3 linked regions of the Homo sapiens genome follow. The protein of the gene in region 2 purifies or fractionates together with the protein of the main gene of each other region. This does not show direct contact. Each region holds a gene or a part of one and is shown on either strand. Other genes may lie near its edges.

Region 1 (7,442 bases), on a different chromosome or scaffold from region 2:
CTCCGGAGTAGCTGGGATTACTAAGTGCAAGCTACCACGCCCGGCTTATTTATTTATTTATTTATTTATTTATTTTGAGATAGTCTTGCTGTGTCTCCCAGGCTGGAGTGCAGTGGCATAATTGCGGCTCACTGCAACCCGTGCCTCCTGGGTTCAAGCAACTCTCCTGCCTCAACCTCAAGGAGCTGGGATTACAGGTGTGTGCCAACATGCCTGCCTAATTTTTTTGTATTTTTGATAGAGAGGGTTTCACCATGTTGGCCAGGCTGGTCTCAAACTCCTGACCTCGTGATCCACCTCGGCCTCCCAAAGTGCTGGGATTGCAGGCTTCAGCCACCGTGCCCAGCCTGATTTTTTAATTTTTAGCAGAGATGGGGTTTCATCATATTGGTGAGTCTGGTCTTTAACTCCTGACCTCAGGTGATCCACTCGCCTCAGCCTCCTAAAGTGCTGGGATTACAGGTGTGAGCCACCGCACTTTCGGATTTCTTTGAGAACGTAACTCACTGTGGGGCATAACAGACAGCCCTGATTGTTGGGGGTAGTGTTGTGTGCTGGTGAGAATATGGAGAGAAGGAACAGGGCCCTCTGCATTTGTAGAGGTCCTGAGACAGGAAAGACTCCGTGTGTTTAGAGACTTGAGAGAAGACTTGTATAGCTTGGGTACTTTTTCAGTGGGGAGAAGACCTCACATGAGATTGCCAGAGAAGGCAGAGGCCATGTTGGGGTTTTATTCTAGAGGTGTAAGAAGCCATTGTAGGGAGTTTCATGATTTGATTTCCTTTTTAAGACTCCTGCTAGTGCTTGGAGAAGGCTTGTGTTTGTGTGCATGTGGAAGCAGAGAGTTGAGCTAGGAAGATGGTGGAGTACGAGGTGGTAGGGATGAAGGGAGCTGTATTTTGGAGAAATGAGACAGGACTTAAATATGGATTGGGGCTGGACAGGGAGGCTCATGCCTATAATCCTGTTTTTTTGGGAGGCTGAGTTGGGAGGATCACTTGAAGCTAGGAGTTCAAGACCAGCCTGAGCAACTTTATGAGACCCCGCCTCTAAAAAAAAAAAAATCAACCAGGCATGGTGACACGCTCTGTAGTCCCAGCTACTCAGGAGGCTGAGGTGGTAGGATTCATTGCTTGAGCTTGGGAGGTGGAGGTTGCAGTGAGCTCTGATCATGTCACACTGCAGCCTGGGTGACAGAGTGAGACCCTGTCTCAAACAAAAGAAAAAAAGGGAGGAAGGGAGGGAGGAAGGAAGGAGAAAGAAAGAAAACAGAATGGTGGTTGTTAGGGGCCAGGTGAAGGGGAATAGGGAGCTATTGTTATGGGTACAGAGTTCGGTTTGGGAAGATGAAAAAAGTTCTGGAAATGGATCGTGAATATATGTAATGCCGCTGAGGCATACAGTATTTAAAAACAGTTCAAGGCTGCTGTGAACTATGATCATGCCCCTGCACTCCAGCCTGGGCAACACAGTGAGACCCTGACTCAGAAAAAAAGAAAATGGACTGGATGTTGGGGGCCTAGGGTAAAGTTGCTTCCTCAGTGATTCCCTTCTACTCTCCCAACATAACCTTTCATGATGAGCTTTTAGTCATATCTTAAGACTCAGCACTTTCGTTTCTGGTAGCAAATTTTTTAGCACTGGGTGGTGCATTACATTATGCTGTACGTTATTATTGATGTACCTGTTTGCCTTTACTGCTAGGAAGGGAGCCTTGTAAGCTCCTTGAAGGCAGGAACTGAGAGTCTTAGTTCTTGTCTTGGTGCTTAGTACCTGGCATGGAGGGCAAATTAGATGCTTGTTGAGTGAAGGAGGAAAAAGTCTTTTCTGCCTGGAGTCTAGCTTGTGGATGGAATGATAACAGATGAGGCAACAGTCAGATTATGGAGGGCCTCCAATAACAAATTTGGGCAAACTGAGAACCATCTACAGCCCATTCTTCTTCCTTGCCACCCAGATCTAATCACTGATGAAATCCTCTCCATGCAGTCCTCAGCTTATGTGTAATATATTCTTTTTTTCTCCTATTTCTTTTTTTTTTGAGATGGAGTTTTGCTCTTGTTGCCCAGGCTGGAGTGCAATGGCGTGATGTCGGCTCACTGCAACCTCTGTCTCCTGGGTTCAAGTGATTCTTCTGCCTCAGCCTCCCAAGTAGCTGGGATTACAGGCATGTGCCACCACACCTGGCTAATCTGGTATTTTAATTTTATTTATTTTATTTATTTTTATTTTTTTTTGAGATGGAGTCTTGCTCTGTCACCCAGGCTGGAGTGCAGTGGTGCGATCTTGGCTCCCTGCAACCTCCGCCTCCCGGGTTCATGCCGTTCTCCTGCCTCAGCCTCCCTAGTAGCTGGGACTGCAGGCGCCTGCCACCACACCCGGCTAACTTTTTTTGTTTGTTTGTTGTTGTTGTTGAGACGGAGTCTCGCTCTGTCACCAGGCTGGAGTGCAGTGGCACGATCTTGGCTCACTGCAACCTCTGCCTCCCGTGTTCAAGTGATTCTCCTGCCTCAGCCTCGCAAATAGCTGGACTACAGGCACATGCCACCACGCCCAGCTAATTTTTGTATTTTTAGTAGAGATGGCATTTCACCATGTTGGCCAGGATAGTCTTGATCTCTTGACCTCGTGATCTGCCCACCTCGGCCTCCCAAGGTGCTGGGATTACAGGTGTGAGCCACCACACCCGGCTGATATTTTTATTTTTAAAATACATTATTTTCTTGATTTTTCCCATACCTTCCTTTAGTTTTTTGAACATCTGTAAGACAGTTGTTTTAATGTCTTTGTCTAGTAGGTCTTCCATCTGGTCTTTCTCTGGGACAGTTTTTGTTTTTTTTTTGAGATGGAGTTTTGCTCTCGTTGCCCGGACTGGAGTGCAATGGCGTGATCTTGGCTCACTGCACTGCCTCCTGGCTTTAAGCGATTCTCCTGCCTCAGCCTCTTGAGTAGCTGGGATTACAGGCATGCGCCACCACACCTGGCTAATTTTGTATTTTAAGTAGAGACAGGGATTCTCCATGTTGGTCAGGCTGGTCTTGAACTCCTGACCTCAGGTGATCAGCCAGCCTTGGCTTCCCAAAGTACTGGGATTACAGGCATGAGCCACCGTGCCCAGCAACTGGGACAGTTTTTATTGGTTAATTTTTTTTTTCTTTTAATGGGTCATACTTTCCTGTATCTTTGTATGACCTGGGACTTTTTAATTTTTTTTTGAAAACTGGACATTTGAATCTAATGATGTGCTAACTCTGAAAATTGGACTCTTCTCATTCCCAGGGTTTGCTGGATTTTTTTGTTTATTTGTTACAGTTTGTTTTTATGCTGAGGATCAGCCTGAGATACAAACTTAAGGACTTCTCAGGTCTTTTTTGAGCCTGCACCTTTCCCTGGGCGCATGCACCATGGTAACTTTTTTCCTTATCTCCCCCGCACCCTCATGATTGCTTTTGAATATCCTAGTCTTTAAAGTCTAGCTCCTAAAGAGGAAAAAGAGAAAAATGAAGGAAGTAGGGAGGTGGGGGCCCTTGGCCCATTAAATTTCCTGGAAGTCTACTTCAGCTGGAGGGGGAGGACTTGCAGTCATGGAGGGGGTGCAATAATGGCTATCCTTCTCAGTGTCTGCCTATCCCTGATTATAAGCAGCAATCAGCAATTAGAATACGGATCCCTAATATTTGGAGGACAGGGTCCTTATTACCCATCCTGGTTCCCAAAAGCTGCTTGCAAGCTGTTTCAGGAATGCATTGTAGGTTGTCTGCCCGTGGCTGGGGGCTAGGGAATGGGGTAGCTGCTGCTCAGCTAAGGGCTGAAATTGACTGAAATTAACCCAATTTACTGTCCCAGTCTTTCCTTGGAAGTTGCAAGCTTTCTTCAACAGTCCCCAGAATTACATCTGACTAATTATGCCAGTGTAATTGTCTAGGTGGGGAGACTGATCTTGGTGCTTCCTACTCTGCTGTTTTAGAATCTGGAATCCTCTCCCAGAATTTCTTTCCTTTTTTTTTTTTTTTTTTTTTTTTTTTTTATGAGATGGAGTTTCACTCTTGTCGCCCAGGCTGGAGTGCAATGGCGCGATCTTGGCTCACCACAACCTCCGCCTCCCGGGTTCAAGCGATTCTCCTGCCTCAGCCTCCTGAGTAGCTGGGATACAGGCATGCGCCACCATGCCTGGCTAATTTTGTTATTTTTAGTAGAGACGGGGTTTCTCCATGTTGGTCAGGCTGGTCTTGAACTCCTGACCTCAGGTGATCCACCCGCCTCGGCCTACCAAAGTGCTGGGATTGCAGGAGTGAGCCACCGTGCTCAGCCGGATTTCTTTCCTTTTAAAGGCTGAATAATGTTCCATTTATTGTATGTATATGCCATATTTTGTTTATCCATTCATACTTTTTTTTTTGGAGGGGACAGAGTCTCTGTTGTCCAGGCTGGAGTGCAGTGGTGCGATCTTGGCTCACCACAACCTCTGCCTCCCAAGCTCAAAACGATTCTCCTGCCTCAGCCTCCTGAGTAGCTGGGATTACAGGTGTGCGCCACTACCACCCGGCTAATTTCTTTATTTTTAGTAGAAACGGGGTTTCACCATATTGGCCAGGCTGGTCTCTAACTCCTGACCTCAAATGATTCACCTGCCTCAGCCTCGAAAACTGCTGGGATTACAGGCGTGAGCCACCACGTCTGACCTATCCATTCATATGTTGATGGACGTTTGGATTATTTCCAAGGTATGCTACTTTTTTATAGCTCTTAAAATTTTTCCAAATTCCTCTCCAGAAATGTACTTTATCATCACCTGTGGTACATCAGGGTATTTTCCACTTTAGACATTCTTGATCTATTGTCTGAGTACTTGAAGTGGTGTGACTGTAGGCTGACTGTTGAATGAAGCTGAAAGGGGGGTTTTAATAGCAGGTCACAAACTTGGATAGAAGAGGAGATGTCTCTCGGGCTGGTTGGATATATAATAAGTTCTGGAAGGCCACATGCTGGTGATGATGTCATCCAGAAAGGGTTTGGTACTGAATTTCTGTTCAGGAACGTTCCTTGTCAGGGATGTTAGGGATCTGCCTTGTCAACTGTAGTCCTTCGTCAGCCTCTTCAGAAGTTGATGCCCACTTAGCTCTTGAAGCAGGTGTTCTAAGTAAATAATATTTTGTACTCTTATATTCTGTGGATTAGTTGTAGGTACATGCTGTTGTGAAAATAAATTCATTTGACTTCTCTGTATCTTGATTGTGGAGGTGATCACACAACTGTTATTTATTTTTTTTGAGACAGAGTCTCACCCTGTCGCCCAGTCTGGAGTGCAGTGGCATGATCTCGGCTCACTGCAACCTCCACTTCCTGAGTTCAAATGATTCTCCTGCCTCAGCTTCCTGAGTAGCTGGGATTTGCAAGCATGTGTCACCACGACCTGTTTAATTTTTGTACTTTTAGTAGAGACGGGGTTTCACCATTTTGGCCAGGCTGGTTTTGAACTCCTGACCTCAAATGATCCGTCCGCCTCCTAAAGTGCTGGGATTGCGGGCTTTAGCCACTCACCTGGCCCACACAGCTGTTTTTAGATTGGTATACGAGAGAGTGAATTTTATTGTGCATAAAAGGTGGAAAAATGAACAGGTAAAAAAATTTACTCAAAAAAATTTTGGGGGTGAGTTTGGCCTTCTATATGGAGATAATAAATAAGTAGTGAAAAACATGAACCCAATTATTCTTTCTACCTTCTCTGCCCAAATCATTTTTTTCTCAAGTGACCAAAACCACACACTTTGAGGTCTTTTTGTTGTTGTTGATACAGGGTCTCACTCAGTCATCCAGGCTGGAGTGCAGTGGTGCAATCACACCTCACTGCAGCCTTGACCTCCCGGGTTGAAAGTGATCCCCTCACCGCAGCCTCCTATGGAGCTGGGACTACAGGCGCCTGCCACAATGCCTGGCTAATTTTTGTGTTTTCTGTAGAGACAGAGTTTCACCGTGTTTCCCAGGCTGGTCTCAAACTCCTGAGCTCAAGTGATCCACCTGCCTTGGCCTCCCAAAGAGCTGAGATTACAGGCGTGACCCACTGCGCCTGGCCCACTTTGAAGTCCTAAAGAAATTTAGGTTATTATTCTATGCATGTTGGAGGATTTAAGTCTTATTAGCAGCTTCTGTTTTCTGTAAGGAAAAAGTTAAAACACATCTGGAAGAGTCTCATAGAGCAGCACTTTCTGAAACTTGCCTGGGTACCAGTATGCCTGCTTCCAGACCTTGAAGATATTACATGTACTGCTTGGTGATCTGCCCTGTCCCCCACATGTTGTGGGCCTGGATTGAATGGACTGAACAGTGTGGGGAATTAGTCCAGCGTGACTTGCCTTGTCTCATGCTGTTTGCTCACTTGTGAGAGCACTATACTGAATTATCCATTATTGAAAGTTCCAAGTGTGCAAAGAACCACACTTCAAAAATAAAATGTCAACATTGCCCTTTCTCTGTTAGAGCCTTAAATGTTCATTATTTTCTTTAGTTTTTTTTTATAACTATCAAACTTATTTTTCTCCATGTGGAAGTATGCCACAACTCCATTTCTAATGGAGCTTGAAATTAGCATGTATTTCCACTTACTTGTTGATGGGCTGTCATCGATCAACCCCTCTTTTTGATTGGGATTTAATTTGTGGTTTTTTTTTTTTACCAGCTGTAAGTTTGGAGTAATGCATGTAATGTAAATACAGTTCACAGGGCAACTTCGGATGTTCTAAATACTTGTAACATTTGCTCATTTTGAACAATATTGTATGAGTAGTGTGAAGTGATTTTTAAAATGTCTGTCATTTTTTTCATGTTCCCATTTTATTAAAAGGAGGGATGGAACTATATTGTGGAAGCTAATGTAATTTTTGTCTCTAAGAGGTTTTTTTTTCTTTTTAGACTAAAAGGGCTTAACAGAAGAAAAATTTATCTTTCTTAATTGCTAATTTAAAGGCTAATTTTTTCCCTAGATTGCTTAGTTTTGACTATTTGATTCCATCATATCAAGCTGTGAATTTCCTTCATTTTCTTGTTTTGAGGTTTCATTATTAAATATTGTCAAAAATAAGTGGCTCATCAACTCTCTTGAAAGTGTCTTATTGCTATGTTTTTTTTTGTCAGTATTTGACATTCTGAATTGAAGATGTGAGTTGGAAACCTGGTTAATTACCAAGTTACATAATCCTGTATTTATTAACTAGGTTAGACTACATACAGACTGTTCTTGAAAATGAAAGTGCTGTTATAACTCAGAAAACACATTCACTATGGCCCATTTCAAGTTAATTGAAGGATTGAGCCTTTGATAGTGCATTTGCCCTGTGCGGCTCTGTTACATGCATTCTTTCTAGGCAAAGATGCATTGTTACCATTCTCTCATGGTATGTTGAATATTTCATTAGATTCAATATTTCAATATTAATCCAAGCTTT
Region 2 (8,487 bases):
AATGGAAACACATCCCACACTCATGGATGGGAAGAATTTTATTTTATTTATTTAATTAATTAATTAATTTTTTGAGGCGTCTTACTCCGTCACCCAGGCTGGAGTGCAATGGCACAATCTCAGCTCACTGCAACCTCTGCTTCCTGGGTTCAAGCAATTTTCCTGCCTCAGCCTCTCAAGTAGCTGGGACTACAGGCACATGCCACTACACCTGGCTAATTTTTGTATTTTTAGTAGAGCTAGGGTTTTGCCATGTTGGCCAGGCTAGTCTTGAACTCCTGACCTCAAGTGATCTGCTCGCCTCAGCCTTCCAAAGTGCTGGGATTACAGGCATATGCCACAGCGCCCGGGCCGGAATTTTGATATAGGAGTTAAAGAGAAATTATTTAGGCAGATAGTGAGGGTGAGGAAGTTCTCAGTAAGGTTTTCCTTTTAATGAAAAGCAGCCCCCAAATCATCTTGTTTCTAACAAAGAGCAGCCTGTAAAATGGAGCTGCACACATGTACAAGCAAGCTGGAAGCTTGCATGGGTGAATGCCAGCAGTTGTGCCAATAGGAAAAGGCCACCTGGGACTAGGCATGTTCAAAATGGTGGCTCCATCTTCCCTTTTCTTTTCCAACCGTGTGTGCAGTAGGGAGCAGACAACATGGTACTGACCAAGTGGAAAGCCTATTTGCATAATAAGATTAGGGTAGGGCAGCCAGCTTCCTCGCACACTATGTAAACATCACACCCGGTCCAACCAATCTGTGGGCCCTATGTAAATCAGACACTGCCTCCTCAAGCCTGTCTATAAAATCTGGTGCACTCCCCCGTGGGCTAGAATTCCCATTAGGGAGCTGCCCCCATGTCTGTCTGTCTGTCTGTCTCTCTCCCTCTCTCTCCCTCCCCCCCTTCAAGAGAGGGAGCTGTTCTCCTTTCTCTTTCTTGTGCTATTAAACCTCACTTCATGTGTGTGTCCACATCCTCGATTCCCTTGGTGTGAGACAACAAGCCTTGGGTATTACCCCAGACAATGATGCTGCTTCAGAATCAATATTGTGAAAATGACAATACTGACAAAAGCAATCTATAAATTCAATGCAATTTGCATTCAAATACCATCATCATTCTTCAAAGAACTTGAAAAAAAAATCCTAAAATTCATATGAAACAAAAAAAGACCCCAGATAGCCAAAGCAAGACTAAGCAAAAAGAACAAATCTGGAGGCAACACACCCTCTGAATTCAAACTATACCACAAGGCTATAGTTACCAAAACAGCATGGTACTGGTATAAAAGTAGGCATGTAGATCAGTGCAACATAATAGAGAACCCAGAAATAAAGCCAAATATTTACAGCCAACTGATCTTTGACAAAGCATACAAAAACATAAAGTGGGGAAAGGACACCCTATTCAACAAATGGTGCTGGGATGATTCGCAAGCCACATGTAGAAGAAGGAAACTGGATCCCCATCTGTGCCTGATACAAAAATCAACTCACAATGGATCAAAGACTTAAATCTGAGACCTGAAACTAAAAATTCTAGACGATAACATAGGAAAAATTCTTGTACACACTGGCTTAGGCAAAGAGTTCATGACCAATAATCCAAAAGCAAATACAACAAAAACAAAGGTAAATAGATGGGACCTAATTAAATTAAAAAGCTTCTGCACAGCAAAAGAAATAATCAGCAGAGTAAACAGACAATCCATTGAGTGGGAGAAAAATCTTCACAAACTACGTATCCAACAAAGGGCTAATATCCAGAATCTACAAATAACTCAAACAAATCAGCAAGAAAAAAATAAATTATCCCATCAAAAAGTGGGCAAAGGACATGAATAGACAATTCTTAAAAGAAAATATACAAATTCACCGGACACAGTGGCTCACGCCTATAATCCCAGCACTTTGGGAGGCCGAGGCGAGCATTGTCTGAGGCCAGGAGTTCAAGACTAGCCTGGCTAACATGGTGAAACCCCATCTCTACTAAAAATACAAAAATTAGCTGGGGGTGGTGGTGCACGCCTGCAGTCCCAGCTACTCAGGAGGCTGAGGCAGGAAAATTGCTTCAACCAGGGAGGCAGAGGGTGCAGTCAGCCAAGATCGAGTCATTGCACTCCAGCCTGCGCAACAGAGCAAGACTCCGTCTCAAAAACCAAAACAAAACAACAACAACAAATATATATATATATATATATAAATTGCCAATAAAGAAATGAAAAAATGCTCAACATCATTAATTATCAGGGAAATGCCAATCAAAACCACAATGAGATACCACCTTACTCCTGCAAGAATGGCCATAATTAAAAAATAAAAAAAAACAGATGTTGGCATGGATGTGGTGAAAGGGGAACACTTTTACACTGCTGGTGGGAATGTAAACCAGTACAACCACTATGGAAAACAGTATGTAGATTCCTTAAAGAACTAATAGTAGAACTACCATTTGATCCAATAATCCCACTACTGGGTATCTACTCAAAGGAAAAGAAGTCATTATATGAAAAAGACACTTGCACACACGTTTATAGCAGCACAGCTCACAGTTGCCAAAATACAGAACCAGCCTAAATGCCCATCGACCAACGAGTGGATAAAGAAAATGTGGTGTATATACATATATATACATATGGGAATACTACATATATATATATATATATATATATATATATATATATATATATATATATGGGAATATATATGGGAATACTACTAACTCAACCACAAAAAGGAACAAAATAATGGCATTTGCAGCAACCTGGATGGAGCTGGAGACCATCATTCTAAGTGAAGCAACTCAGGAATGGAAAACAAAACATGGCATGTTCTCACTATTAAGCAGGAGCTAAGCTATGAGGATGCAAACTCCTAAGAATTATATAATGGACTTTGGGGACTGGCGGCGGGGAAGGGTGGGCGAGGGAGTGAGGGATAAAAGACTACATACACATTGGATACAGTATACACTGCTCAGGTGATGGGTGCACCAAAACCTCAGAGATCACCACTAAAGAACTTTTCCATGCAACCAAACATCACCTGTTCCCTCAAAACTGTTGAAATAAAAATAAAAATGTAAAAAAAAAAAGGATATCAATGCTAAGAAAATCAGACTGTAAAAATGACAACTATAAAAGCACTATATAGTACATTGGTTAAGGGAGAGCTTAGGGGAAAATTTATATAAATACATATAGTAATAAATAAGAAATATGAATAAAAATAAACATCAGTGGTAGAAATTAGAGAACAGCATATAAGCCTAAACACAGAAGAAGGGGGGGGGCACGGTGGCTCACGCCTATAATCACAGCACTTTGGGAGGCTGAGGCAGGAGGATTGCTTGAAGCCAAGAGTTTGAGACCAGGCTGGGCAACGAAGCAAGACCCTGTTTCTAAAAAAAAAAAGAGGCAAGAATCAGAAAACAGAAAAATATTAAAAGCAATAAATATCAATGCAAGAACAAATAATAAAAGATAAACTATAGCTAGCTAATAGAGGAAACTGGATGGCTGAGGAAGGATGTGGAGAGGAGATTTACTTTAGAAATTCATTTATTATTAAATATTTCAGACATACCAGAAGGTACAAACAATAATATAAGGCATGCTTGTGAAATTAACATTAACCTAAATAACAAAACATTACCAAGGCATGTGAAGCCTTTCTGTTCTTCTCCATTACATCTCCTTCCAGTTTACCACTATCTTGAAATTTTAGTTACTCCAATACATGACTTTATAATTTCATGACATATGTACACTCCTAAAATTTTATATTCTTTTGCACGTTTTTAAATATATAGATGTTATTTTACACTATATATTTTTTATTTCCTTTTCTAAGAGATGGGTGTCCCCACTGGCCTCCAACTCCTGGGCTTAAGAGATTCTCCTGTCTCAGCTTCCCGAGAAGTTGGGACCACAGGAACACGCCACCGCACCCGGCTTGCGATGAGAGGAGTTAAACTTGTTTTGTTTTGGTTTGTGTCTTTTTTTTTTCTTTTTGTGAATAACGGGGTCTCGCTATATTGCCCAGGCAGTTCTCCAACTCCTGGGCTCAAGCGATCCTCCCGCTTCATCCTCCCTAAGTGCTGGATTACAGGCGTGAGCCAAAGCGCCCACCAACCCTGTTTTTTGGGTTTTTCATGCTAGTAAACATAGCACTGGTTCATTCTTCGTACCTGCTATATACTATTATATAAATACGCCACTATTTACTTATTACTTCTGTCAATGGCACTTATGTTTCCTGCTCTTTTGCAACTTATAAAGTTTGCTATGAATATTCTTGTATTTGTAGATACGTGGGCGAGAATTTTCCTAGAAGAGTGGTAGGCACGTGTAATTTTACAAGCTATTTCCTAGTTGCTCTGCTAAGGGTTTGTGCCATTTAGACTACCAAACCCGCTGAGTTTATCTCGTTGCTCCAAAGCTCATCAACACCCGACAGAGAGGCTTACTTTTCATTCTGCCTCCTGTTTTATTGTTCATGGTACTTCACGTTACACAATTCCTCGAATTTTATTTCAATTACTCCTCACAATCACCCTGTAGGTTAGGTACGATTTTTCACATTTTACAGATAAGAAAACAAAGAATCTCTTCGTTGGTTGAAACAACAGTTTTTCTTCTATTTAAATCAATGTCTTACTTTTCAACCTCGCTCACTGTTATCTTTTTGCTCCCAGCGCTGGAAAAAGTGGGACATCCCCTTCGGTGGGTGTACGGGGTTGGTATCCAAAGTTGGCAGCTTTCCCTCCCCCTCCTCCATCCACCGTCTCCAAAACCCCGTCTCCGCACTTCGCCACCCGGAGACCGCTGTAGCTCTGTAACGCGGAGGAACGACAGGGTTTGAACCACTGGAGACCCCGTAGTCCCCATCTCACTTCCCTCTGCCCCCCCTCTGCGTTCTAGGGGGCGCCCTCCGCCGCGCTGGAAAAGGCGGGGCCGGCAACTCCGGGCAACAAGATGCGTTGGGATAGGCCGAGGTTTGCGGCGCTAGTGCTCTGGTCACCGGAAGTCCCTCTGTTTCTCCCTCTCCTGAGTCGCTGTCGCGGAGGCTGGAGCGCTGCCCCGGAAGTCCTCCCCCCTGTTCCCCGCCCGCGGCAAACATGGCGGTGGACTCGGCGATGGAGCTGTTATTTTTAGATACTTTTAAACACCCGAGCGCTGAGGTAAGGCTTGGCGACTTGATTCTGACGCTGCTTCTTGACTTGGGATCTTTACAAAAAAACCGTTAGGCGTTCTCCACTTTTCCTTCTGCAGATTGCTTCTTTAATTTCTCGCTTACACACAGACACCCTCCCCCGAGCTGTGTGAGCATCGCGTCTGAGGGAGGGCTGCAGCAGCCCCTTCATTTCCTTGCTTTAACTTGGGCCCTCCGTGTCTTTGGTCGAGTTGGCTTTTCTGCTTGCATGGCTTTATTTTTTATTTTTCCTGTCAGGTTTGGGCCTTGAGAAGGATCAGGGTTCTCAGGTTTACCTCAGATGGCGTTTGGGAGGGGTCTTGGTTTGCCAGTAGTGTTTGACAGTAGTGCCGGAGTCTGAGCAGTTTACGTTGGCTTCGTGGTTTCCGAATCACGATGTTTCTAAATCCTTTCTCTTTGGCCTCTTTTCTGTCGGGAATTATGTTCCCCAGTTGTGACACTTACTTGGTTTAGGATTACGGTGCTCTCCGATTTGGCCTGAAACTTTAATACTTGTCTCTCGGAGAGATTTCACACATTAGGAATGAGATGCATTCACGGAGAATACTTGCGAAGAGGGGAGAGTTGAGAGAATTATAGTTAAACTCATCAGCAGACATCTCCTTTGAGGTTGGAGGTGGAATGTTGTGGAGTAATATTTCTGTACAAAACTACTTGAGCGCCCCTTAATGTACAATTGGCCCTGCAATATGTAGATTAAACATAGCTGGTTAACTAAAGATTCCTGAAAGCAGACCAAAAATGAACTTGAATGAAGTCTACGGAGAAATTGTTAAAAAAAAAAACGAACTTCACATTTTTCTGTCTTAATGTAAGCTTAATTTAGAGAACTGTTCTTTCTTTGGAGATTATTTTTTTCCTTTTATTTTTATCAAGTGTGCTCTTGTATCAAGCTTTTTGAGGACAGATATAATTTCTCTTTTTCTCAGCTGTATCTCCAGTGCCTAGGACAGTATTAGCAAAATGTAGGTGCTCAATAAATATTTGAATGGAAAATGTTTAAAATGTTCTTTCTTTTATGAGATAGTAATGATAGTGGGTAGTGATTGTATCATAATGCTTTACTTGGCAAAATAAAAAGTTGACAGCTGTGATCTAATTTAACGAATGGTTTATAGGTTTGTAAAAGTCAAAAGTTGGAGAACTTTGAGTTAGCATTTCTTACTGACAGTTAATTTATGGTCTGACATTTAATGTGGGTCAGTTAGCACTGTTTGTTCAATGACTATATCTAACATTCTAGCCGAGATTTAGAAAACCCTCAATGGAGGCAGTAGTTGGATCAGAACAAACTTATGGTGTATAGAAATAGAGAACAGTTAAAACTGAAAGAGCCTGGCGCAGTGGCTCATGCCTGTAATCTCAACGTTTTGGGAGGCGGAAGCAGAAGGATTGCTTGAGTCCAGGAGTTTGAGACCATCCTAGGCAACACAGTGCAACCCCTGTCTCTACAAAAGAAAATTAACTAGTTGTGGTGGTTTGATCTTGTTGCCCCAGCTACTCGGGAGGCTGAAGTGGAAGGATCATTTGATCCTGGGAGTTCAAGGCTGCAGTGAGCTAAGATCACACCACTGTGCTCCAGCCTGAGCAACAGAGTGAGACCCTGTCTCGAAAGGAAGAAAGAGAAAAAGGAAAAAGAGAAAGAGGCATGTGATGAATTAGTTTAGTACTATTCTAGTTTAGGAAAATTGGCCTTCATTAGTTTATCATGTATTTCTATTCTTTTATTCATTCTTAGGTAAACATTGAATACCTTGAGAGCATAGGGCAGATGGTAAATGCTTTCTTCTGGGGTGATTGGGGAAGGCTTAGCAGAGATCACATTTAAATCAAGTCTTGAAGGAGGAAGTAGGGGTTTGTGGGTGATACGAAATATTGAAATGTTTGTTTTCAAGAAGTTATAACTCAGTATTGGAGATTAGATTCACAAAATTGTGATTTGAGTTAGAATGTGATGATCACATAAAGAAGCACAGTGTGAATTCGTTGGGGTTTATCATCTTAGTTTACAAAATGCCCATCAGTATCTGACGTATTAGAACTAGCTCCCTTTGTGGGTATAAATAAAAGATACAAGATTTCAGAAGAGGCAGAGATAACTTTTCATTTGAGTGTATCAGGAAAGACTTCATCAAGGTGTTTGGCTTATGAACTTGGTCTTTGGTGAAAGGGGCAATATTTCACAGTTGTAGTTAGGAAAGGAGGGCATTCTACTGGGGTAGTCAGTCGTCTGTTAGGGTATGCTTGAAGTAGCAGTGTGAAGTGGCACCCAAGGCAATTCAAAGACAGATCATGGAGCTCCTTGAATGCTCGACAAAGAATTACAGACTTTAGGCCAGGCGCAGTGGCTCACGCCTGTAATCCCGGCACTTTGGTGAGGCTGAGGTGGGTGGATTGCCTGACGTCAGGAGTTCGACACCAGCCTGGGTAACACAGTGAAACCCCGTCTCTACTAAAATACAAAAAATTAGCTGGGCGTGGCGGTGTGCGTCTATAGTCCCAGCTACTCGGAAGGCTGAGGCAGGAGAATTGCTAGCACCCGGGAGGAGGAGGTTGCTGTGAGCCAAGATCACGCCACTGCACTCCAGCCTGTGCGACAGAGCAAGACTCTGTCTTTTAAAATAAATAAATACATAAATAAATAAAAATTATGGACTTTATTTTGTAGGAAATGGGTAGTTTTTGAGCAGGCGAATCATACAATTAGTAAGATACATTAGATAGATTACTTGATCAATAATACTTAAAATGGTTCAGAGAAGGCCAGGCGCCGTGGCTCATGCCTGTAATCCCAGCACTTTGGGAGGCCGAGGCAAGCGGATCACGAGGTCAGGAGATCGAGACCATCCTGGCTAACATGGTGAAACCCTGTCTCTACTAAAAATACAAACAAATAGCCGAGCGTGGTGGCAGGTGCCTGTAGTCCCAGCTACTCAGGAGGCTGAGGCCGGAGAATGGCGTGAACCCGGGAGGCAGAGCTTGCAGTGAGCCGAGATTGTGCCACTGCACTCCAGCCTGGGTGACAGAGCGAGACTCCGTCTCAAAAAGAAAAAAAAAAAAAATGGTTCAGAGAAAATAGAGGTGAGGTGACAAAATCAGAGAGAAAAAGTGAGATGTTATGAAAACCTGAGTTAGCCAATGGGCAGTAAGCATTGTTTAACATTTATTGAATGCTTAATTTGTGCCAGACACAGTGGGCTTTGATAACTTAAGTAAATCATCTCTGGTCCTTCCATCAGTTTTTTTTTTTTTTTTTAAGACTAGGTCTTGCTCTGTCACCCA
Region 3 (7,442 bases), on a different chromosome or scaffold from region 2:
AAATAATGAAACCAGTGTGTGTTTGTGGATAGTTCTATTAGTAGTGAATCCATGGCCTCCTTTCCATATACAGGTTGGTTTGAAAATTGGAGTATAAGGATTTTAGGATTTGTAGAAACACGGCTATTGTTTTGATTTGCTCTAAGTGCTAGTTGCTGAAACAAAGCATAGAGGAACAGTTCTTTTATATTCCAAAATTTGAACCCTGGTTGCTGACAGACATCCTAGAGGATTACCTTCTTGTATGTTATTAAGAGTTACATATTGTGGGAATTATGGAAATTAAAAATGTGGTTTAGGAGAAGATAGGCTGAGGATTTTACATAAGAGGGTAGTTTTTAAACAAGGTAGTGTTTTTAAGAAATGTGTATTTTAGTATTCGTAAAGCCAGTTCTAGATTGTATTACTGATAAATGATCATTTAAGAGTTCATAAGTATGAATTCCATATTCCTTACTTGTCTCTAATTAGCAAACACTGAATTCCTGGTCTCTACCAAGTTGCTTAGTTACATAGGAAACTAGGGTACCCTCATCCTTGAATAATCTTTCTCTAAAAGATTACAAGGTTAATTTTCTCAATTAAAATCATAAATTTAAAATACTTTTATGTAATATCAGCTCTCTACCAGGTATAAAACTTGAAAACCTTTTCACAGGGAGAATGAAGTTGAAGAGGTAAAAGAGGAGGGTCCAAAAGAGATGACTTTGGATGAGTGGAAGGCTATTCAAAATAAGGACCGGGCAAAAGTAGAATTTAATATCCGAAAACCAAATGAAGGTGCTGATGGGCAGTGGAAGAAGGGATTTGTTCTTCATAAATCAAAGAGTGAAGAGGTAAAATTAAGTTTTGTCGTGTTTGAAAATGTTCAGATGTGACTTGAATTGTATTTATAATTTTTGTTTTAAAATTTCACATGGGTTATTTGTCTGTTAAAGCTTTACATAGGATCATTTGGGGCAGATAATTTGCTTTATAAGGAAAATAAACTGTATTATCACATATTCTAAGAAATTTAGTCCTTTGATCAATTTGTAATTATGTTTTATGTGGTAGAGTTACTTTTTCCTAAAAAGCTGTTAGTGGAGTATCTTGTAGTTATTGGTGTTCAGAAATATGATAGTTCTTTTCAAAGTTGTGGTTGTATTTTTGAAATCTTGCCAAACTGGGGATCATTAAAGGGCTGTGGTATTATGGTGTTAGGTTGAAATCTTGACATTTTCATATGGTTTAACCTAAAATGTAAGTGACTTCATTTAGAATTCAACTTTTGAAACTGTCTGCCTATACCATATATAATGGCCAGGACACTCAGTAAATGGCAATGTGCATTTTGTCTAAGGAATGACGACTTTAAAAACCAAAGTATATGTGGGTTTTACTTAAGAAACATGGAAACTAGTGAAAATACAGTTGACTTGTTGAACAACATGAGGATGCTAGGGGCACTGACCCCGCAGATCAATGCACATGTAACCTTTGACTCTCCCAAAACTTAACTACTAATAACCTGTTGACTGAAAGTCTTAGTGATAACATAACCAGTTAACACATTTTGTATGTTGCGTATTATATACTGTGTTTTTACAGTAAAGTAAGCTAAAGAAAATGTTGAGAAAATATATTTACTGTTCATTAAGTGGAACTGGATCATCACAAAGGTCTTTATTTTGGATAGGAAGAAAAGGGATTGGGCTTGCTTGTCTCAAGACTGACAGAGGCAGAATGTTCAAAGCCACGTTGTTCAAGGGTCAACTGTATTGGAGAAAGTCACATTGATGGCTTTTGATTTGGTAGCTTCCGTTTAAGCTTTGGGGTGTGTTCTTAGAGGAATGTTTCAGTGCGGCTTCCTGTTTGGCTTTAAAAACTCATACAAGCCCTAACTATATTATTTCTTCTCCTAAATTCATTTTCTCTATCAGCTTCCTTTAACCTTTTGACATTTGTGTTTGATTTATTCATATCATAAATTGGGCTGTGCCAGAAATCCAGACTGAGTTTTATCATCCTAAGGTAAAGTTAAATTAAAATATTGTGAGGGCAAACCCTTTCAATAAGGTATTAGTTATTTTTATTTTTTTTTTTTGAGACAGAATCTGGCTCTGTCGCCCAGGCTGGAATGCAGTGGCACCATCTCTGCTTACCGCAACCTCCACCTCCCGGATTCAAACAGTTCTTGTGTCTCAACCTCCTCAGTAGCTGGGATTACGGACACTCGCCACCATGCCCGGATAATGTTTGTGTTTTTAGTAGAGATGAGGTTTCATCATGTTGGCCAGGCTGGTCTCAAACTCCTGGCCTCAGTGATCCCCGCCTGCCTCAGCCTCCCAAAGTGCTGGGATTATAGGCGTGTGCCACCATGCCCAGCCAATAAGCATAATTTTTTAAACTGCAAAATGGCTATAAGACAAACTTGGAAACATTTTAAAATAAAATGGAGGTTAAAAAGATTAAAAGTTTTTTTAGGTTTAGAGATGATTTTTAACATTTACTTCATATGAGTAGTAAATGAGGACATTGTCTTTTTTAAGTCCTGTAGAAAAAAAACTGCATTAGAACACGTGGTTTCAGCCAGGCGCAGTGGCTCACACCTGTAATCCCAGCACTTTTGGGAGACTGAGGCGGGCGGATCACCTGAGGTCGGGAGTTCAAGACCAGTCTGACCAACATGGAGAAACCCCGTCTCTACTAAAGATACAAAATTAGCCTGGTGTGGTGGTGCATGCCTGTAATCCCAGCTACTCAGGAGGCTGAGGCAGGAGAATCACTTTAACACAGGAGGCAGAGGTTGCAGTGAGCTGAGATCACACCACTGCACTCCAGCCTGGGCAACAGAGCAAGACTGTCTCAAAAAAAAAAAAAAAAAAAAAAAACAACACTTTAACTTTCACATGTCTTCATTCTCGTGACAAATGTGAGGTAGTTAAGGGGAAGGAAGAAACTATTTACAAATGGAGAACTGTGTTACCGTGTTATTGACAGAGCTCAGAGTTTCTGTTTTCTGCTCCTCATTGTCTGAGTGCTCTAGAAAAAAGGTCGGACACAGTGGCTTACACCTGTAATCCCAGCACTTCGGGAGGCTGAGGTGGGCAGATTGTTGAGTTAAAAGTTTGAGACCAGCCTGGGTAACATGGCAAAACCCTGTTTCTACAAAAAATATAAAAATTATCTGGATGTGGTTGCGTGCACCTGTGGTCTCAGTTACCTGGGAGGCTGAGGCGGGAGAGGATCACTTGAGCCCAGGAGGCAGAGGTTGCAGTGAGCCAAGATAGCATCACTGCATTCCAACCTAGTTGACAGAGCAAGACTGTTTCAAAAAAAGGAAAAAAGAAAAAAAAAAAGGATCCCCCTGCCCTGACTTTATCCCAGTACAGTTTCTTGGTATCTGCAGGGGATTCGTTCCAGGACCCAGAGATATTAAAATTTTCAGATGCTCATGTCCATTATATAAAATGGCATAGTATCTGCATATAGCCTAAACACGTTTTCCCTATACTTTATTTTTTATTGTTTCTATTTTTTAATTTAAAATATAGAACAATTTACAGTTTTGCGTGTCATCCTTGTGGGGATCATGCTAATAATCTTTGTATTGTTCCACTTTTAGTATATATGCTGCCAAAGTGAGCACTCCCTCATACACTTTATTTTGAGACAAGGTCTTGCTCTGTCATGTAGGCTGGAATGCAGTAGCATGGTCACAGCTTACTGCAGCCTCAACCTCCCCGTGCTCAAGCGATCCTTCTAGCTCAGCCTCCTGAGTAGCTGGAACTACACACCTGTGCCAACTCCTGGACTCAAGCAGCCCTTCTGCCTATGCCTCCCAGAGTGCTGGGATTACAAGTGTCAGCCACCACACCTGGCCTACTTTTTATTGTTATATGGTTGGTTGGTTTTATTTTTTTCTGAATATTTTCGATCTGTGGTTTGCAATAAATTGAAAGCATTGGTTTGAAATAGCAAACATTTAAAAATCACACAATTAGTATATATAATTGATTCTAATTTGCTGGTGTTTTGTGAATTTGTTTTTATGTTTCTAGCCTCCTTTAAAATTTGTATTAGAACATTCTATTGCCTTACAGTGTGTTGGTTTGGTACAAAGGAGTGACATTTAATACTAGTATGAGTTGATGTAAGGGGTGAAAACATGGATAAAAACACAAAAATTTATTTGTACTTTAAAGGCTAGTTATTAACAGCTGTAATATTTTAAGTTGAGTCTAATGGAATTGTAATAGTACAAGTTCTAATGAAAGAACAAAATGTTCTTTATCCCTTTAGAAAAGAAGATTCCTTAGATGTATTTAGGAAAAGAGGAAAAGAAAGCTGTACTTTCAAGTCCTATAAGTACAGTTTTCAACTAGAAGATTAAAACCCATCCCAAGCGTACAAGAAGACATCAGGCATGAAGCAGTATAGAATTGTCTGGCTTTTTGCTTTTTTCCCCCAGACTGGGTCATGTATCTTAAACGCAAATAGAAAAGAGGATCTGGATTTCACAAACATGACTTCATTTTTAAGAAGTTTCTAGCTGGGCATGGTGGCTCATGCCTGTAGTCCCAGCACTTTGGAAGGCCAAGGCCAGCGGATCGCTTGAGCCTAGGAGTTTGAGACCAGCCTGAGCAACACTGTGAAAACCTGTCTATAAAAAATACAAAAAAATTAGCCAGGTGTCATGGCATGTGCCTATAGACCCAGCTACTTGGGAGGCTGAGGTGGGAGGATCGCTTGAGCCTGGGAGGTGGAGGTTGCAATGAACCCAGATCGTGCCACTGCACTCCAGCCTGGGTGACAGAGTGAGACCCTGTCTCAAAAAAAAAAAAAAAAAAAGGTTCCTGTGACACATTTAAGGTGTGGTTTTATTTGTGCATAGCTTTACAAGATTCCCCTCTTTATGTAAAGTGTGTAGTGTTTCACTTGAATTTGTAGCTCTCCAATTTGTGTAGAAAAACGTAGTGGTTGTGTATTAACAGAAAATGCTTCTGAGAAGTTTATATCTAGTAAGGTCTTTACCCTAGTTGTAGTTGGAAGAGTGTAGAACAGAGTTTTTCTTTCTGAGTGTTCTTTTTAACTTCAGTGTTAGTGCTAGTAGTAACCTTATATGTCATCTCTCCAGAGGTCTTCATCAAGGATTCACATGGCAGTCCTGATCTGAAGGGCATATTTAAAATGTACTTGTCCAGATTTCACTGCTAAAGATTATGATTCAGTAGGTCTAGGATGGGCTTCAGCCGTTTGGGTTGATTGTGATAGCATACATGTCTTTAGTTGAGGACTGCTGGTATTACCTGCAATTTTGAGATAGAGAAAAGTGCAGGAAAATCTTCCTCCAGGATCACTAAAGCTGAGCCCTAGCTTGTTACCTGTGGAGGCATTGAGACATTTGTTCACAGAAAGTACAGTTTGGATTTTTGGTTTTTTTTAGAAGAAAGCTCATTATTTAGAAATTTTGCAATGTTACTTTTCTACTAATAACACAATCATCTTCACTTATATTTTTAGGCTCATGCTGAAGATTCGGTTATGGACCATCATTTCCGGAAGCCAGCAAATGATATAACGTCTCAGCTGGAGATCAATTTTGGAGACCTTGGCCGCCCAGGACGTGGCGGCAGGGGAGGACGAGGTGGACGTGGGCGTGGTGGGCGCCCAAACCGTGGCAGCAGGACCGACAAGGTAATTTAAGACTTTCTTTTCCTTTTACATAATTTAAGGACCTCTTATAAGTCACTGGCTGGGTCAGACTTATGTCACTTTTGGGAACATAAGTAGAAGTAGTAGCAGTGTCTTTAAGAAACCGCATGTTAGGTTATATTTATGTTTAAAGCACTTAAATGCCTTTTTGTGTAGTGCTGTTAGTAGTGTTAAGTTACCACCCTTTTGAGTTCTTTCTAGGTGCCGGTCATGGTGCTGGGCTAGGCATTTTATGTACTTAATGTCATTTAATTCTTGTTACTGTGATGACATTCTCATTTTCCAGATGAGAAAATTCTGGTATAGTGAATCAGGTTAACTCTTGGCCTTTGCTAAGGCTTACCTGAAAACCAGTCTGTTCACTTTGATAATTCCTAACTGCTTTTTAGGTCTCCACTTAATAACCATTGTGTTCCTTGTATAATTCCTCTTACGACACTTAGGATTGTTGACACTTTTTTCTTTTACTAGACTCTTCTGTGAGAGCTGGGATTCATTTTTGGCTTACTTTCTATAATCTCTCCAATGCCTTGAACAGTATGTGGCACAAAACAAGTTCTTAGAGAAATATTTTGGTGAATTCCCAAGTAATTGATAGATTTGAACTCAGATCTGATGCTTGGAAACAACCATAATGTCCTCCTAAATTCTCAACACCTTACACACAAATTTGGGGACCCACCTACTTGATTGAGTCTGTTTTTGATGATTACAGGGGTAACTTACCATTGCCAGTGTAATGATACTTTGTTCCTCCCTCTAAGACCAACCTTTTTTTTTTAAGGTGGTGGTTGTGTTGATGGGCTTTTCCCATACTTTCTTTTTTAGTTCTGTTATTTATACTTTAGGCTATAAAGAGCAGTTTGGATTCCTTTTTTCAGACTTTCAACCTTGATGATTATTGCTACTTAGATATTAGTTCCTTAGCATGCTTTCACATTGGTGCCATTCTTATTTAGCAAGTGGAAAAAGTATAAGAATACTGAACAATGCGAATTCACATACATAATTGCTTATGAATCTACTTGTATGGTTTATTGGAAAAAGTAAAACAACTGGGCTGGGCGCACTGCCTCACGCCTGTAATCCCAGTACTTTGGGAGGTCTGGGTGAACAGATCACCTGAGGTTGGGAATTTGAGACCAGCCTGGCCAACGTTGTGAAACCCTGTCTCATTAGCCAGGTGTGGTGGCACATCCCTGTAACCTAGCTACTTGGGAGGCTGAGGCACAAGAATCACCTGAACCCAGGAGGTGGAGGTTGCAGTGAACTGAGATTATGTTACTGCACTCCATCCTGAGCAACAGAGTAAGACTGTCTCCAAAAAAAAAGAGAAAAAGAAAACAACCCATATTATTACTCTGGAATGAAAATAGGCCTTGGTAGAAATTTAGGACAGGGCTCATTGCAAATACTTGTAGTTTTTTTGTGATCCATAATTTTGTCTTGATACATTTTACCTAGAATTTTAACAGTAGGATTTTTTTTTTTTTTTTTTTGAGATGGAGTCTCACTCTGTTTCCCAGGCTGGAGTGCAGTGGCACAGTCTCGGCTCACTGCAACCCTTGCCTCCCAGGTTCAAGCGATTCTCCTGCCTCAGCCTCTTGAGTAGTGGGATCACAGGTGCCTGCCACCACACCCAGCTAATTGTTTATATTTTTAGTACAGACAGGATTTCACCATGTTGGCCAGGCTGGTCTCAAACTCCTGACCTCAGGTGATCCACCCACCTTGGCCTCCCAAAG

What was found. Proteins that work in one complex are often made in the same cells at the same time.
Region 1: the proteins of VIRMA (region 2) and CTNNA1 purify together in Homo sapiens (affinity purification with mass spectrometry; 2 studies listed by BioGRID and IntAct, with this or other methods). This does not show direct contact.
Region 3: the proteins of VIRMA (region 2) and SERBP1 purify together in Homo sapiens (affinity purification with mass spectrometry; 2 studies listed by BioGRID). This does not show direct contact.

Annotation. Positions count from the first base shown.
Region 1 is NC_000005.10:138,755,983-138,763,424, forward strand, and holds part of CTNNA1 (catenin alpha-1), read left to right. Parts: intron 1-7,442. UniProt on the Homo sapiens protein: Associates with the cytoplasmic domain of a variety of cadherins. The association of catenins to cadherins produces a complex which is linked to the actin filament network, and which seems to be of primary importance for cadherins cell-adhesion properties.
Region 2 is NC_000008.11:94,550,071-94,558,557, reverse strand, and holds the start of VIRMA (protein virilizer homolog), read left to right. Parts: upstream 1-5,088; 5' UTR 5,089-5,110; coding exon 5,111-5,173; intron 5,174-8,487. UniProt on the Homo sapiens protein: Associated component of the WMM complex, a complex that mediates N6-methyladenosine (m6A) methylation of RNAs, a modification that plays a role in the efficiency of mRNA splicing and RNA processing.
Region 3 is NC_000001.11:67,413,403-67,420,844, reverse strand, and holds part of SERBP1 (SERPINE1 mRNA-binding protein 1), read left to right. Parts: intron 1-658; coding exon 659-836; intron 837-5,505; coding exon 5,506-5,679; intron 5,680-7,442. UniProt on the Homo sapiens protein: Ribosome-binding protein that promotes ribosome hibernation, a process during which ribosomes are stabilized in an inactive state and preserved from proteasomal degradation.